Linked DNA regions of Homo sapiens: region 2 is linked to region 1. Evidence: fine-mapped expression QTL. Tissue or cell type: testis. Region 1 holds a variant in brackets; the other region holds the start of a gene. All regions are shown on one strand. Distances are from middle to middle.

What was found. PIP is the estimated chance that this variant, and not a neighbour inherited with it, causes the effect.
Region 2: DDX11-AS1 starts here. The variant in region 1 is fine-mapped to the expression of DDX11-AS1 in testis (GTEx, PIP above 0.99).

What each region holds. Positions count from the first base shown.
Region 1 is chr12:31,001,432-31,009,534 of GRCh38, forward strand. TSPAN11-AS1 (TSPAN11 antisense RNA 1) reads right to left here and starts at 4,541. Exons shown (of 3, transcript XR_007063261.1): 1 at 4,366-4,541. It also overlaps a transcript of TSPAN11 not described here. The variant C/G (reference allele first, on the strand shown) is at 3,362.
Region 2 is chr12:31,070,003-31,078,105 of GRCh38, forward strand. It overlaps DDX11-AS1 (DDX11 antisense RNA 1), which reads right to left and starts at 3,845. Exons shown (of 3, transcript NR_038927.2): 1 at 3,193-3,845. It overlaps DDX11 (DEAD/H-box helicase 11), which reads left to right and starts at 3,858. Exons shown (of 27, transcript NM_030653.4): 1 at 3,858-4,089. RefSeq lists enhancers at 3,509-4,040, 3,913-4,022, 4,553-4,712, 4,573-5,102.

The DNA of each region.
Region 1 (8,103 bases):
ATCATCAGCATTGACCTGCAATCATGTTCACTCTTCTGGGGCCCCTACTGGATGATTGGCCCTGCAAGCACAGGTACTGTGTCTGCATCTTCCTTGACTGTTGTCTAGGTGCTTGGCATGAGTTACTTGAGTATTCAGTAAGTCTGAGCCAATAGACATTTGTGTGTGCCGGCACCAGTGTTAGCCACTTGAAGGGCTGGCAGGGTTCTGCCACAGCTCGTAAGCCACCCTTTCTCAATTGTGCTTTGCTGAGCACCAGTGGGGAGGCAGTTCCCCCACCACATCACACAACAGTGAGGGGGCTCCCAGAGTCATCCCAGCCACTCCCATGGACTGAAGAGCCCAGATCCATCCCAGAAGGCTCTAGCACAGTCACCAGATGTCCCCAGGGAAGGAAGATGACCCTCTCATATACAGCCAGGGCAGCCTGTCTTCCACGGCTCCGCTTGTGTGACTGGGGCCCAGTGCTAAGAGAGAGGCCGATGTTTTCCACTGCCCTGTGAGCCACAAGCACACAGGTGGGTCCACAGACCTGGTGGCAGGAGCCAAAGCAAGAACAAGCAGAGACAGGGTGGCTTCCACCAAAATTCCCATGACTTGGCTGGTCTTCCACAGATGATGGGGGTCACCTGCCCCTCTAACCAGTCCACATCCTGCAGCCACTGAGTCTGTCTCGGTAAATCTCCTGGGGAGGCTCTCAGGGACCTTGCTCCAGTGGGACCTGTGTCAGAGGGTCCCTTCAGACACAGAGTGGTCTCTGCAGGCTTTGGGACATGGCGGCTGCAGGATGGGGCCCTGGAGGCTGATGCCTTGGGACAATTTCACGTGGACCTGGCCACCCCCTTGAGGACAGGAGGTAGAGCTCCACACACAGAGGGGTTTCAAGATGCCCACTTCCAACTGCTGTCAGACCCACATGCACACTCGTTCTTTATGCCTGCCTCCTCTCCGGGGACATAGGGTTTAGCAATGACCCAGGACAAGGGGAATTCTCAGCTGCTCTCATCTACCATGTGTCACTGTGACTGTGACAGCCAAGGAAACCCCATACACCAGGACCCAACCAAGGCCACTGCGAGACTTCTACTGCAGTAGGGCAGTGGGATGCCTCTCAGACCCCGCCTCCTCAGAGTGCCCGTTTGGAGCAGGGACCCATCCTGGACTACTGCCTCACTGCAGCAGAGGGGCAGGCCAGACTCTGAGGGTCTGCGGGACAAAGAATGGACCCCAGGCACCTGGCACCCAGCTCCCATCCTGTGCCATGTCCCTGCTAGTTAGCACCTCCACCTATATAGGGGCCAGAGAGGAAGGGACAGTCACTTCCATCCACCTGAACTGCTCTTTGGCCACCAAAACCTGGAGGGATGGCCATCTAGTTTCAAGTCAAAATAGAACATCTACAAGAGGTTCTAGGGCAGGGCAGCAACCTCCCCAGAGAGCCCAAGATGCAGGCCCATGTTGGAAGGAGAGAGGGTGACACCGCTCCAGCTGCGGGCTGTGGGGAGGAGATTTGCACCCTGACACCCACTGCCAGCCGCCCGGAGGCAGTTCTCACCCCCTGCCTGCTCACCCCTTCTGTGAGATGGCTGCAAAGAAAGGCTGAGTCCACATCAGACATCCTACTGTAATCATCTACAAACTCAAAGGGACTTTCTGAGACAAGTTTGTAAATTGTTTGCATCAGACCTGATTGAACTAACTCTGATGTTGGCAAGGGAAGCAGACAGTGAGGGAATTCACTCAGGGGAATTCTGCCCCAATGAGATCATAGTCAGGAGACACAGAGGAGAGACACTTAGCCACCTTCACTGGCATCACAGGATGTGGCCCTCTGGGAGGTGTGGGGACCGTTCTGCAGGACAGGCAAGGGGCTTGGAGGAACATCTACTCTATGCATGGAGACTTCCACCTAATGTAGACTTGGCCAAATGATGAAACTGCCAAGCACTGGGTGAGCCAAGAAGGCAGTTTGAGGACCTGTGAACAAGGCTCTGCAAACGGACAGATGAGCTGGGGGGTGGCTGGGGGAGCAGACACTGCAGCAAAGGCTCCAGGGCCAGAGGATGCCCCTAAAGCACTCCAGAAACAAGACTTTCAGGGAGGCCACACATCTCCCAATGCACTGGACTGTTGCTGTTGATATTAACAAAAACTAAAAATTACATAAACAAACCTACCCACTCCACCCACATCAGAAACACATGATGCTCCAGGTCCCACTGGGTGACTTGAGCACTTGTTTGGTGAGCATCTGTCTACAGGAGTGTGTTTGCTCTGGAATCTGCACTTTGGGGTTCCCGGGGAGGACTCCTTACCAGCAAGACCGGCCAGAGGACTAGGGAAGGGCGGTTTTGCTCAAATGTGTGCCTCTCTCATATTCCATCAGCACCATGGCTCCTGTCTCAGAGAAGCTGTCTTTACCCCATCCAGCACCCTAAGACCAGCCTACTCCCCACTCCCACCTGCCAAAAATATGAATCCTGAACACATCAAAAGTTATATCCTCCTGGTCCCAATTTATATGTTACTTAAAGATGAAGAGAGGAGTGACTAGGAGCTGGGTGGCCATGACTCAGCCCTGGGAGCAGACAGGCAGGTGGAGGCTGGAGAAGAGACCTCGTCTGGCTGGGAAACCAGGGTATGGAGCCAACTGTAGGAAGAAGGGCTGCCACCCACCAATGCCCCAGCCAGCGACATGCACTGGATCCTGGCTAGTGGATAACCTTTGCATGCTGAGTCCCATAGATTCTTGACTTTTTCATAACTGCAAAACATTACACTAGACCAGCCTCAGTTCTGAGGGGTGCATCCTGCCATTGAATACCTGACCCTGCCTGTTCATCTCACACGTCCGGTTGTGTGCATGCCATGACTCCAGCTCTTTCTTCCTGGGGCTATGGTAGTCTAGGGCCAGTCTGATCTCTCTTGGGCTTTCTGTATTTCTTCTCTTTGAGATCACAGAGGATGTGATTGCCACCCACCCACTGCTGATGTCGATGAACCCTGGGAAGGAGATAGAGATCATAGGACCAAACTGGACATCTTTCCCTCCCTCTCAGCAAGGCAACCTGTGGCTGGGTGAAGCTGGCAGGAACAATCAGGGGCGCCACTTCCACTTGCCCAATGGGGTCCTCTGTCGCTGTCTGAGTAGCAAAACTTAAGGATGGCTTCCCAACCCAGAAGCAAGGGGAGAAAGTGAGTAGCATCCACACTAGAGAGAAATTTGAGAGTTTCTAGCAGGAATGTCTGTGAAAGGAACTGGGGTGTGCAGAGCCTGTCTCGAGAAGGCCCGCATGTGGTGGAAGGGGCGGCCTCCCATGCAGTGGAGGGCAGGAGGAAGGAAGAAGGAAAAACCCAACAA[C/G]TGCTCCTCAGTGAAAAGCACAGGGACCTGCCAGCTCTGCTGCATTTCTGGCAAAGCACTTCACCAGCCCCCAGGGGACCCCCACTGCTCTGGCATCTGAGCTCTGTTAGCAAACACCATCACCCTGTGATGAGTTGCCTCTAGCCTCCTTCCCACTCCTCTCTCCACCTGCCTCTCCCAGGCTCCTGTCTGCAGATGCCAGGACTGGCAGGACCCCTGTGTCCTCTCCACGCATTCTGAGCGAAGGCTGGTGAGTCTCATCTGAGAGCCTTGTGGGGGTTGCATAGTGATTTGTCCTGACTGAGACTGAATGGGGGTCCTGTATTCCCACAGGTCCCCCACACTTAGGGAAAAAAGAAATTAAGCCATTAAAGAAATCAACACAGTAAAAAGTTATCAATCAGACAGCCAACGCTTAACTTACCTCAGAGGTAGTATTCCTGAACAATTAATCACAGTAAAATAAAGTTAAGAAGTTACACTGTAAGGTATAAAAAGCCTGGCGAGGTGCTCAAGGGATCTCGCCCAATAGCAGGCAGACCCCACCCTGCCAACTCCCCCACAGTGGCCACGGACAGCAGCAGCCTCCGCAAGGGTAGTCTCTCCACAGGCGGAAGCACTGTGCTGCCTACCCCATGGGGGGAACAAAATGTCAGTGTGAGGAAGGGCAGGAGACAGACACCCATCGGTGGTGGGGGTTCCTCCAGAGCACACCCCAGCCCACCCCATCATCTCTGGCAAATATGCAGACACAGACGCAGGCATCCAGGTGCCCCGTGCCCCAGGTCTCCCTGTGCCGACAACTCCTCCCCGCCCCTCCACCACTGAGAAGGCTGAGGCTGAGGCAGGGGTGGGTGGGCGCAGGGGTCATATCTGGAGAATGCAGGCTGGCAACACAAAGCTCAAATCCTCTGCCTCCACAGAGCATCCAGTAGAGGAGCGGGGAGTGGGGAGGGGCTTGTGGGGACACTCCGGCCAGCCCACACACACGTCCTACTTCTTACCAGTCCAGTGGATGTGCTGGGTGATGGTTATGGAGAAGGCCAAGCCCAGGATCTGAAAGACACATGGAAGGACCTTCTACAGGAGCTTCAGCACTTCAGCACTCTGGGCCTGACCTCTGCCCCACAAGTTGGGGTGTCACAGCGCTCCTAGTGCAAGTGGGAGTAGCCACTGGTGTGGTGGGAAAATGTCCATGGAATGGAGAAAATGGTGAGCAGAGGTCAGCCGGGTGTGGCAGGAAGGGAGAGGGAGGAACAGGGCAGGAGGACGCCCAGTACAGGAAGGAGGCAAGGCCTGTGGTAGCACAGCCAAAGCTCAGAGCCAGAGAGCTTAGCTGGTGGCATTCAGGAAAATTCCCTTTCAAAACCACAGAGTTGTCTCAGTGGCCATGGCCAAGCTATCATCTAGTCTATGGCAGGAGAATCTAGGGCGAGGCAGGGTGACTCAGGGGATCAGGCCCCAGCCAATGTCAGCACCAACCAACCAGAAGTCGCCAACCACCCCAGTGTGGTCCAGGCCTGATCAGTGCCCTTCTCCAAGCAGGGGCAGGCCTAGGGGCCAGCCTGAGTATCAAGCCTCCCCTGCCTGCTTTCCCAGTTGAGGGCATTTCAAACTAACTTTAATTCAGGGCTCCAAATAAACCCACATCGAAATTTGAGAAGATGAACTCCCATCCTCGCATTTGCTTATGGCCTCCTCAAGGGCCAGGATTTGGGTCTGTTGTACTTGTGGTTAAATCCCCAGACTGGGGCCTCACCCTTGGCAATTCCTTTGGGTTGTCCTCCTAGGATGATCCTGTCTGGGCCCTGCCCTGATTTTGCAGGAGGGAGAAGGTGCAGGCCCCTGGCATAGGGAGGAGCCCTGAGCCAATGGGCATCTCAGGTCTCCCTCATCACCACTGGCCCATTCAACACATGCACAGCAGGTAAACTGAGGCCAGTCAGGCTATGGCTGTATAGTGAGCCCGCACTTCAGACTCCTCATTTATTAATTCTTGTAATTAGCCCAGTATCCCTATGGCATTTTTTTCTTGTTTTGTTTGAACCATATTGAGTTGTAGTTTTAATATATGTTTCTGCCATAGGTATATTTCATGCAGACATCCCATTTCTCTGGGGGTGGGGCCCACGATTTCCCCTTGAAGCTACCCTCCCTCCTGAGCTTCTACCCGCACTTGCACGCTGCTTAGGACCCATGGACAGCCACTGCCCATAGCCGTTCATAGCTGCCACCAGTCTCCCATCGGTGTAGGGGGGGCCCCTCCCCAGGGGTGACCTCTTGTGCTGGGGCTGGGACCACAGCAGAACATTAGGAACCCTCCTAGGCTTCTGTGTAGACTCGCTGTCCACCCTCTCTAAAAACACGAGCATTTCCAAGACCTGGGTTCATATCTTACCCATTTTTTTTCCCCACTGTAAGGTCTAGAATATGCCTGGAATACCAGATAAATATTTGCTTGAGGAATGAATAAATGAGTGATGGGGACAGGTGGGGGTTCCTGAGCAGACCACAGCCCGGGTACAGGGCCACACCCAGACCCACAAACCCACAGAGAAAGCCCTCTGTGCACCCTATTTTCCCCACTCCCAGAAACCCCAGGGCCCCCAAATTACTCCCCTTTCAGTCACCCTTGGCTCCTCACTGACCTGGGATAGGTCGTCTGCCCTACCTGCCCCAGCCCCCATCACAGCCCATCATATCCCCTGGCTATTTTGGTCACCACTGCCTCATGCCTCTCTGTGGAGACAACCAGTCTCCTGGGGTTGGGTGTCACTGGTGGCCCCCACCCCGACCCCTTGGCCCCTCTGCCACCCTCATCCCCTCTTTGCTTCCAGGAGATTTTCAAATGCTAGGGCTCAGCACTCCCCGATGCTTTCTGTGGGCCAGGGCCAGGCCCAACATTTAATAACATTTAATAAATTAGTGAATGGGAAGACTTTTTTGTTTAAGGCTTTAATTTCACAGCCTGACATGCCTGCTAGTAATGAACCTGCCAAGAACTTCGTCTCGGGGAGCAGGGACAACATGTCAGTTCCAGGAGTGCCCCTGCTTTGACTTTCAGTGCCCCTTGCCCCCAGGGACCCCACAGCTCCTTCATTCTCACAGCCATAGAGGCGGGGGCCAGGGAGGAGGGAGAACTGGATGGTGCTTCCACTTCCACATGGAGAGACATGAAGGGGCAGAGGCATCTTGGTCAAAGCTACCCAGTAGGCAGAAGGGCCGCAGCTCCCTGGAACCACAGAGAGGCAGGTGGCCACACAGGGTCTCCCAGGGTCTGAGTGTTCACCCTCCAACAACTTATTCCATTTCTTTTTTCTTTTTTTTTTTTTTTTTGCATAACTTTACTCAAGAATTCTTTCTTATTACCTGAAGAATCTACTTCCCTGTGGCTAACACACATCAGTCCTAGTTTTGCTCAAGAAATCTACCAAGAACAAGTAAAACAGGCCTTTAAATATTTGAAGGTATGCATGGAACAATTCAGGTTCCTCTGCTGAAAGCTTCCTGTCCACAGTTTCCCCAGAGAAACATGTCCACAGTCACAGAGCTCCTTGTGGTACAGCCATGCCTGCTCCCAGAACCCAGAGCCCTCTTCCCTGTCCTTCCTCATTGGTGCTGTGCTGCTGTGGATGGTGCCTGCAGCCCCAGGCTAAATGCGCTAGGCTAAAGAGACCAGGCTGAAGCAGGGCAGCCATGAGTCAGGAGCTGGTAGTGGAGAGAGGTGAGGAGGTCCTGCCACTGCCCCAGCTGCTCCAGCCCCAGCCTGCACATCAGGGGGCCACTCTGCTGGCCTCCCGGAGCCCATCCACCCAGGACCAGCAGCAGCATCTGGCTAGACAGGCTCTACTCCCTCCACCATCCTCCTGGGAGGCAGCCCGCTTTTCCGATTTGCAGGCACGCTTTCTTTTGGCAGGGAGCTGCTGCCATCTGTGCTCTGGACCATAAAACAAGTTTTCGTCAATAAATTAAGATAGTGACTGAGATGAGAAGTCATTCTGCAACACAGAAGGGGCCAATGCGAATCTAAAGCAAGACTGGGTTCCCACCCATTTCCCTGAGTTCCCTGTGCGCCATTCGACCCAGGCTTCTAAGAGAAGGAGAGACTCGGAAGGTCACCTGCCTCCCTCTGGCCCCATTACATCCTTGAGGTGGGTAAGCCAAGGGTCACAGTGACAGGTAAGCCAGGCTTTCAGCAATGCTCTGAGCCAAAATAATGACCCCAATCGCTGTGTTAGACGAGCTAAATCACTCAGACACTGCCTGCCCAATGACTAACACTATAAAACCTCCCTGCAAATCAAAATGCTCTTCCCCTGGAGCCTCCCCGCTCTTCAGCATGAACCTTGGTTCTCGCAAATGCGCCTTCCACACCTCTGCCTCCAGACCCTGCTCACAGCACATCTTCCTACCCAAAAAGCCTTCCTTGTCTTCTCTGCCCTGTTCTCAATCCAATCCAGGGCCTTCAAGGCCAGCTGAAGCCCCACCTCCTCCTCCAGGCCTGCCGACCCCCTATTGCTCTGCAGTGGCTGCAACTGTCTGTACCCCTCATCAGCCTTAGAGCATTCTCCCACCCTGTGAGCACTGACCTTTTGCCGGGTGCCTGTTCTGGCTACAAATGGCTGCATGAGGGCAGGAGCCTCTGTTCAGACTTCTCTGTGCAGTGTCCTAGCATCAAGCATGATGCTGGGCACAGAGGGAATCTCGTTCATAAACAGCCAGATATGGGCTGTGTGAGCCAT
Region 2 (8,103 bases), 69 kb after region 1:
TCCTATTATTATCTTTATTTTATTCGTGAGAAAAGCAGAGACTCAGAAGGCTTAAGTCATAGGCCAAGGTCATCCAGCCAGTTGAATGGTGGAGTGGGGAATATCTGGATCCAGGCAGTCAGACTGTTTTTTTTTGTTTTTTTTTTTTTGAGACGGAGTCTCGCTCTGTCACCCAGGCTGGAGTGCAGTGCCGTGATCTCGGCTCACTGCAAGCTCCGCCTCCCAGGTTCACGCCATTCTCCTGCCTCAGCCTCCCAAGTAGCTGGGACTACAGGCGCCCACCACCACGCCCGGCTAATTTTTTTTTTTTTTGTATTTTTAGTAGAGACGGGGTTTCACCATGTTAGCCAGGATGGTCTCGATCTCCAGACCTCGTGATCTGCCCACCAGGCAGTCAGACTTTATTAGAACATGCACTTAAAATTAGCAAGAAGGAATGAGAACAACAACAACAAAATTAAAAAATGCTTGCCAAAGAAAACTAAAACAATGTGCAATATTTAGCCCTGAGATCACTAGCAGTGAAGGCAAAGAAGAATGCATAATGGGTTTCTACAGCTCTCACTGTCCGGTTATAGAAAATATTTCTACATTAGTACAAGCACTTTTCTTCCTAAGCCCTGAGTTTTGAGAGTTTATCAAGAAGGCCTCTGAGTTCATTCAATTAATGGCATCATCTAAGGCTGTTTAATAACAAATGCAGAGGTAGTCCACATAAGGAACTTTTGCCTTTACCTTTGAGACAAAGCCCAGGGCCTCACGTTAGGAGTACAGCTCTCTAAATATAAGCCTCCAGGGCAGAAGCGAGGGGAGGATGGAGGGACACAATGCAGATTTACAGCCTGGTGGGTACGGCCTTTGTCCTCTCCATGTCTATTGTCACTCTTGAGGTCCAAGCCTCTACTGCACTGCCTGGTTTACTGCACAACCCAACTTGGCTGCTTGCTTCTGGTCTCTCCCCACCAAACCATCCTTCACACTGCTTCCAGCTTAATATTTCCAAGACACTGCATTTGCAAATCCACTCCTCTGTTTAAAAATGTTTCAGTGACTTGCAACTTGTCTACAGTGTGAAGTATAAATTTATTAGCTTGTTGTTTAAAGCCTTCTACAACCAGACCCCGACCGACCTTCACGTCCTATTGAGAGGTGACAGCCTGCTGGCAGCCCTCGCAGCCCTGGCTCGCTCTTGGCGCCTCCTCGGCCTTGGCACCCACTCTGGCCGCGCTTGAGGAGCCCCTCAGCCCGCAGCTGCACTGTAGGAGCCCCTTTCTGGGCTGGCCAAGGCCGGAGCCAGCTCCCTCAGCTTGCAGGGAGGTGTGGAGGGAGAGGCGCAGGCGGGAACCGGGGCTGCGCTCGGCGCTTGCGGGCCAGCGCGAGTTCCCGGTGGGCGTGGGCTCGGCGGGCCCCGCAATCGGAGCAGCCGGCCCGCCAGCCCCGGGCAGTGAGGGGTTTAGTACCTGGGCCAGCAGCTGCCGTGCTCCATTTCTCGCCGGGCCTTAGCTGCCTCCCCGCGGGGCAGGGCTCGGGACCTGCAGCCCACCATGACTGAGCAGCCCGCCATGACTGAGCCGCCTGCCGGCGCCCCAGCCATGGGCTCCTACGCGGCCGGAGCCTCCCCGACGAGCGCCGCCCCCTAATCCGCGGTGCCCAGTCCCATCAACCCCCAAAGGGCTGAGGAGTGCCGGTGCACAGCGCGGGATTGGCAGGCAGCTCCACCTGCTGCCCGCTGCCGCATCCACTTGGTGAAGCCAGCTGAGTTCCTAAGTCTAGTGGGGACTTGGAGAACCTTTATGTCTAGCTAAGGGATTGTAAATACACCAATGGGCACTCTGTATCTAGCTCAAGGTTTGCAAACACACCAATCAGCACCCTGTGTCTAGCTCAGGGTTTGTGAATGAACCAATCGGCACTGTGTATCTAGTTAATCTGGTGGGGACTTGGAGAACCTTTGTCTAGCTAAGGGATTGTGAATGCACCAATCGGCACTCTGTATCTAGCTCAAAGTTTGTAAATGCACCAATCAGCACTCTGTGTCTAGCTCACGGTTTGTAAATACACCAATCGACACTGTGTATCTCGCTAATCTAGTGGTGACCTGGAGAACTTTTGTGTCTAGCTCAGGGATTATAAACGCACCAATCAGCACCCTGTCAAAACGGCTCAATCAGCTCTCTGTAAAACAGACCAATCAGCTCTCTCTAAAATGGACCAATCAGCAGGATGTGGGTGGGGCCAGAGAAGAGAATAAACACAGGCTGCCCTAAGACAGCAGCAGTAACTCACTAGGATTTTCTTACCACAGTATGGAAGCTTTGTTCTTTTTGTTTTTTAGGTCTGCACTGCCTTTATGAGCTGTAACACTCACTGCAAATGTCTGCAGCTTCACTCCTGAAGCTAGTGAGATACACGAACCCACCGGGGTGAACTAGCAACTCCAGTACATGCCGTCTTAAAAGCTGTAACACTCAGGCGAAGGTCTGCAGCTTCACTCCTGAGCCAGCAAGACCACAAACCCACCAGAAGGAAAAAACTCCAAACCCATCGGAACATCTGAGGGAACAAACTCCAGACACACCGCCTTTAAAAACTAACACCGCGAGGGTCTGCAGCTTCAGTCTTGCGTTAGTGAGACCAAGAACCCATCAATTCTGGACACACTATCAACTTTGTTTCTCCAAGGGTGCTTCTTAAACTGGATGATGCACACCCTAGGAGTGTGTGTGTAGGATGGGGTTTGAAGCAGTAGGGTAAAAAACCTAGCATACATTCTATTCCAGAGGTGTCAATTTACCAGACAACAGTTATTTTAAAACTTTTTTATGCAAAAACATGTTATAGGGTGGAATGCAACATTTTTATGGGCCTGTGGGCCATTTGTATACATCTTTGGAGAAATGGCTATTTAAGTACTCTGCCCATTAATTCTAAACTTAAAACTAAGACTTCAAAGTCCCTCTAAGGATTTTGCTGGGCCACATCCCAAGACCCTGAAGGGTATTACTTACTCGCCCTCTCCAAACTGCCGAAGTCGGAAGCAGGTGACAAAAAAGCTGACCCTGGAATCACCTTTTGTAAATTTCCCACCTCCAAGCTTTTCGATAGTTTGTAACACTGGCTCCTCTCCCCAAAAGCCTTTCCTTCAAGTCCCAGCAACTCTCCCTGACCCTGCTGGGAAGGCGCACCAATTACCTGTCATTCCAGGAAAGCTCATAGCATAAGATGATCCCATTGGTCATCTCCCAGAACCAGACTTTCTGAAAAGTCCTCAAGGACCAGCTAGTCCAATCCCTCACTGAATAAAGGAGAAGCAAAGTCTAGGGAGGTGAGGTGATTCGTTGTCCTCCTAATTAGCAGGTGAGCTCCTGGCAGGGCTGGGGTTTCATCTTCTGGGCTCTCTGCAAGGTCGTGCCCGGCACGGGCCAGGAACAATTTCATAAACTCGTCATCTAGACGGCCTTTGACTGACACCATCTCTCCGTGTGGAGGAGCCGCTGGGGTGCACGGGGCAGGTGTCGTCCGTTTCAAAGGTAAAATAACCCAGCTGCAGACCTCCAGAGGCCGACTAGAGCCGGGGTCAGAAAACAGGTTTTCCCTCTCGGGGACAGCGCCCAGGGGACCGGCATTAGAACATCGGCTGATGTTTCATCTGGTCAGGGAACCATCCAGCGCTTAGTACACCTGGCGCTAATCGGCGGGGATTAATCTCACACCCCGCAGCTGGCGGAAAGCAGCGGGAGGAGGCACCTAGCCCTGGGGTTGAGATCCCAGTTCCCGCGTGCGCAAACCACGCCCCTGTAGATTCTCGCTGCTGCGTGTTCGCGCGCGTCCCGGAGTGCGCATGCGCAGCGGCGGGGGTTGTTCCGGCTGCCTTTCACTGAGGGGACCCGCCAGTTTCTAACTCAGTGGCGTTTGCCCTGATTCCCGGGGCCTGGCTTTCAGCGTAGCAATTCTGCCGGCGAAGAAGGTGAGCGCAGTGCTGTGTGGCAGCAGAGCTCCTTAGGACGAGGAGCAGCGGGACGAGGAAGGGCAGACTGGTGAAATCGCAAACTGGGCGTCTGTTCCGGCGCCGGACCCCTATTTGCAAAGGTGGGTGGCCCGTCCGGAGCGGGAAAACATTCCGGAAGTGGAGGGCCGGGCCAGCGTGATTGACAAGCGGGAACCCCTGTGTGGGGACGGGTAGGCCTAGGAAGGTTGTGCCTGCGGTGGAACTGGGCGGTGCGCAGAAGTGGGCATTAACAGCAGCCGCGTGTCTGGGTCTTAGATTTGGCCCAGCTGTGTTGAGCTTTTCATGGATTATCTTACGTAGATAAGACACTGCAACAGTGAGTGAGCGCTTGTAACCCACCTGTCTCTTACGGAAACTGAGCCCCAGCGATGCTAACTTTAGCAAGGATACAGCTGGGATCCTAAACTTGGCAATCAGAGCCCAGAGCCGATAAAGTTAGCTGCATGAGTCTAGCTTCCCCCAGGGCGGGAATCGAGGCGGAGCAGGGTACAGTACGGAGGCCAGGAATGAGTGCACTTGACCAGATTGTTGACGGAAGTGTCATAAAAATGGACTTAAATGCTGATAAGCAGCTGTTTGGGTTCCACACAGGGTGCGAGCTCAGGATGCACGTTGGAGGGGACACAGGGCCAGAGCAAGGTGGGAATGCGGGTATTATGGGCCAGGCCATCCTCCAGCTGGTGGAGCACCGCAGTACTGCAGTGTGTGGCCCTGGCTTAACAGCAGTGCGGAAAAGCTTTTTTCTTGGGGCTGTGGTGCTTTCCAGGTGTGTGAAGTTAAAACATTTTAGGGCCATACGGTAGATAGTACCTGCCACATAGTTGTCTTGGTCAGCCCCGGCTGCCATGACAAAATACCATAAACTGGGTGGCTTAGACACAGAAATGTGTTTTCTCACAGTCCCAGAGGCTTGGGATGTCCAAGATCAATGTGGGGAGGACACAACTGAGCCCACAACAATAGTCTGTACTCAGTAATGAGTGATAATTGGGGACTGAAGAAAATGAACACGTTAAGAACTAATATGTTCCTGAAGTGCTTTCACAACTCTAACCTCGTTTTATGAGCGTGAGCTTTGCTGTCCTGGTGTGTGCCTTGGCACTGGGAGGTGATGGTTGTCCTCCACACAGCCAACCTGAAGAGGGCTGAACAAGTCACTGCAAATGTTTTTAATAGGGCTTAGTGAATCCGTTATACTCAGATTTATCTAAACCTCTATGATTTAGCCTGTGCTGCTTCTGGAATAATGAGATCCATAATTACCACTGATGGGGAAGTGAAATAATACTTACGTTTCTTCTGTATTGTTTAGTGTTGTCATTCTAGAGTTTGGTAACCAAGTCTGTCTTTTTTATCCCACTTATCCTGGTGGGAGGAAAAGTGAGGAGATAGAAAGTTTCAGGTGGCTTGGGGGTCTGGCAGATGTGGTTCAAATCCTGAGTTCAAGCACTTGCTGAGTGACCTTGGGCAAGTCATATAAGTTTACTGAGTCTCAGTTTCTTTCTCTATAAAATAGAGCTTATAAAAATACCACACAGGGTTTTTGTGGGGTTATCTGAAAACGGTTTGAAACCATTAAAGAACTGGCCATTTAACTAATAGGTATTCAAGTCATGGGACCTCCGTTACCCAGCCTCGGAAGAGAAACCTTCACTTACAGCCCCGATGTCTGGCTGGCTACTCATTCGTTCATCAGATTTTTGTTGAATGCCTATGAGGTGTCGAAGCACCTAGTTCTGAGTCCTGGAGCCAGAGAAGAGCAAGACAGACAAGGTTCCTCTATTTATGGAACGTATATTCCAGTGAGGAAGAATAAATAGGTTCAGATGGTGCTAAGAGCTATGAATAAATTAAATACAGAGTAATGTGATTTTTTAAAAGTGACTTAGAGCAAGCTAGGGGGTGAGGAGTGGGGGTGGTGTTTGACCACTGTCCAGCGGCCAGACAGCCGGAGAGGCTTCTCTGAGGAGGTGAGCCAAAGCCTGGATATTGAGGAGGACTCCTTCTCCAGGCCAAGGGGAGCAGCAAGTGCAAGGCCCGAGCTGAGTAGATGAGGCTGGGAGCCTGACCAGTCTCAGGCTGACCAGTGCTCTGTCTTGAGAGGAGCTGCTGGTCAGCTTTTTGTCTTGGGATTCAGAACGAGGAGACATGAAGACTTTTTACTTGGCAGTGGGAGCTGAAGCTGAAAGGTCCAGGGGCTGATGAGGCCACGTGTAAGCGAAAGTTTGGGATAAGCAGAAACCGAGTGCGCTGAGGGAGTGAGATTGTGGCTGTATCCGGCACCTGGCTGAGCAGGAGAGTGAACCCCGTGGGTGTGTGTTTGCTGGTGACGTTCCTGGAGCTGTCTTGAAGTCCGAGCTGCCTTGCAGCTTGTAGTCTGCCTCTGTTTTTGGCTTTCCCAGATAGTTTCAATTCTTACTCTCAGTTTGTGAACCTCCCTTCAGTGAACCTCCCTTCACTTATGCTGGATATCTCTTGCAACCGGATGAGCTTCACTAAAGCAGAGTCATTTGGACCTGGATTCGAATCCCTGGTTTTCCACTTTTTAGCTGTGACTTTGAGCAATTATTTAATTTCTGTAAGCATCAGTATCCAGTAGCTGTATCCTTATAGTGTTGTACAGATTAAATGAGATAATAAAAGCAAAAGACCACTGTAGAGTGTTTAACACATAGGAGGTACTCAAAAATTTGTTAGGTACCTTTCTTCCCCTTTCCTTCATGTGTTAAAGCTTTTTCAGTACATACCCCTCTCTCAGGATTGAATTGTAAATCATGTTTTTTGATTACCCTTCTTGTAATAATTCCTCTACCTCTGTAGTCATGTTTTTCTTTTTTCATTTTTTCTTGTCCCCAGAATGTCTAACAAAACAGCCAAATATACCTCTGTGAAGACAGAGGGTAAAATAATGCTAGTTCTGTGAGTTCTCTCTTCTTGTGCAAATCCATAAACTGCCACCAATCTGTAGTCATTTTAATTGCCCCTAAACCGAAGAGCATCGTGGCAACTACCTTTCCCCTCGTAAATAGAGTGACACTATCACTAGTCTTATTGAGGCCAAAGTTATAAAGATGGGCTCTCGATCTACTAATATTAGTAAAATGGGTTTGGGACTTACTAACATTTGTGCTTAGAAGAGACAGACCTGGCAAAGAGCTTGGAGAAGTGAGTTCCAAAGAGAGAGGTGTGGGAACCAGGATGGAAGAGTCAGGCCTCCAGATAGCGTTTACTTCTCCTTTCTTCCTTGAATCACTGTCTCAGAGATAATTAGGTTCAGGAGAGGAGAAAAAAAAAGATGACGTCAACGTGGAGCAGAGTTTTTCTTAGACCTTAGCCTAGCAAGGAAAGAGAAATGCCTGGTCTCAGTACTGGGAAGCTGTTCCAGCCAGAGCCCCGTGGCTGTGAAGAGAGCTCTCCTGTCTGGAACCAAACAGAAAGCTCATAGGTCTAGAGGCCAGAAAAGTTAGTAGGTGGTGGCTCTGTTCGGTGCTGGAAATGGAGGCCAGGATGAACTAAGAAGCAAACTAAAGATACTTGTAAGATAAGGACGTGTAGGCCGGGTGCGGTGGCTCACGCCTGTAATCCCAGCACTTCGGGAGGCCAAGGCGGGCGGATCACGAGGTCAGGAGATCGAGACCATCCTGGCTAACACGGTGAAACCCCGTCTCTACCAAAAAAAAAAATTAGCTGGGCGTGGTGGCGGGCACCTGTAGTCCCAGCTACTCGGGAGGCTGAGGCAGGAGAATGGTGTGAACCCGGGAGGCGGAGCGTGCAGTGAGCCGAGATTGCGCCACTGCACTCCAGCCTGGGCGACAGAGTGAGACTCTGTCTCGAAAAAAAAAAAAAAAAAGATAGGGACGTGTATGTTAACTTGCGCTATCCAAACAACAAGCTGTGCTTATGGTCCTCTGCCTGTGCGTCATGATTTTCCAGGACTTCACAACGGGATAAAGTGAAGTAGCTTCGGCTTGTGAATGTGCATTGCAGAGACGTGGGAGAAGAAAGCTGCAAAAGTCATTATAAGCAACACCCTTGATCTTAGGGGTGCTGGTCTGTGAGAAGAGAGCTCTAAGCCTTTTGTAGAGGCATTAGAA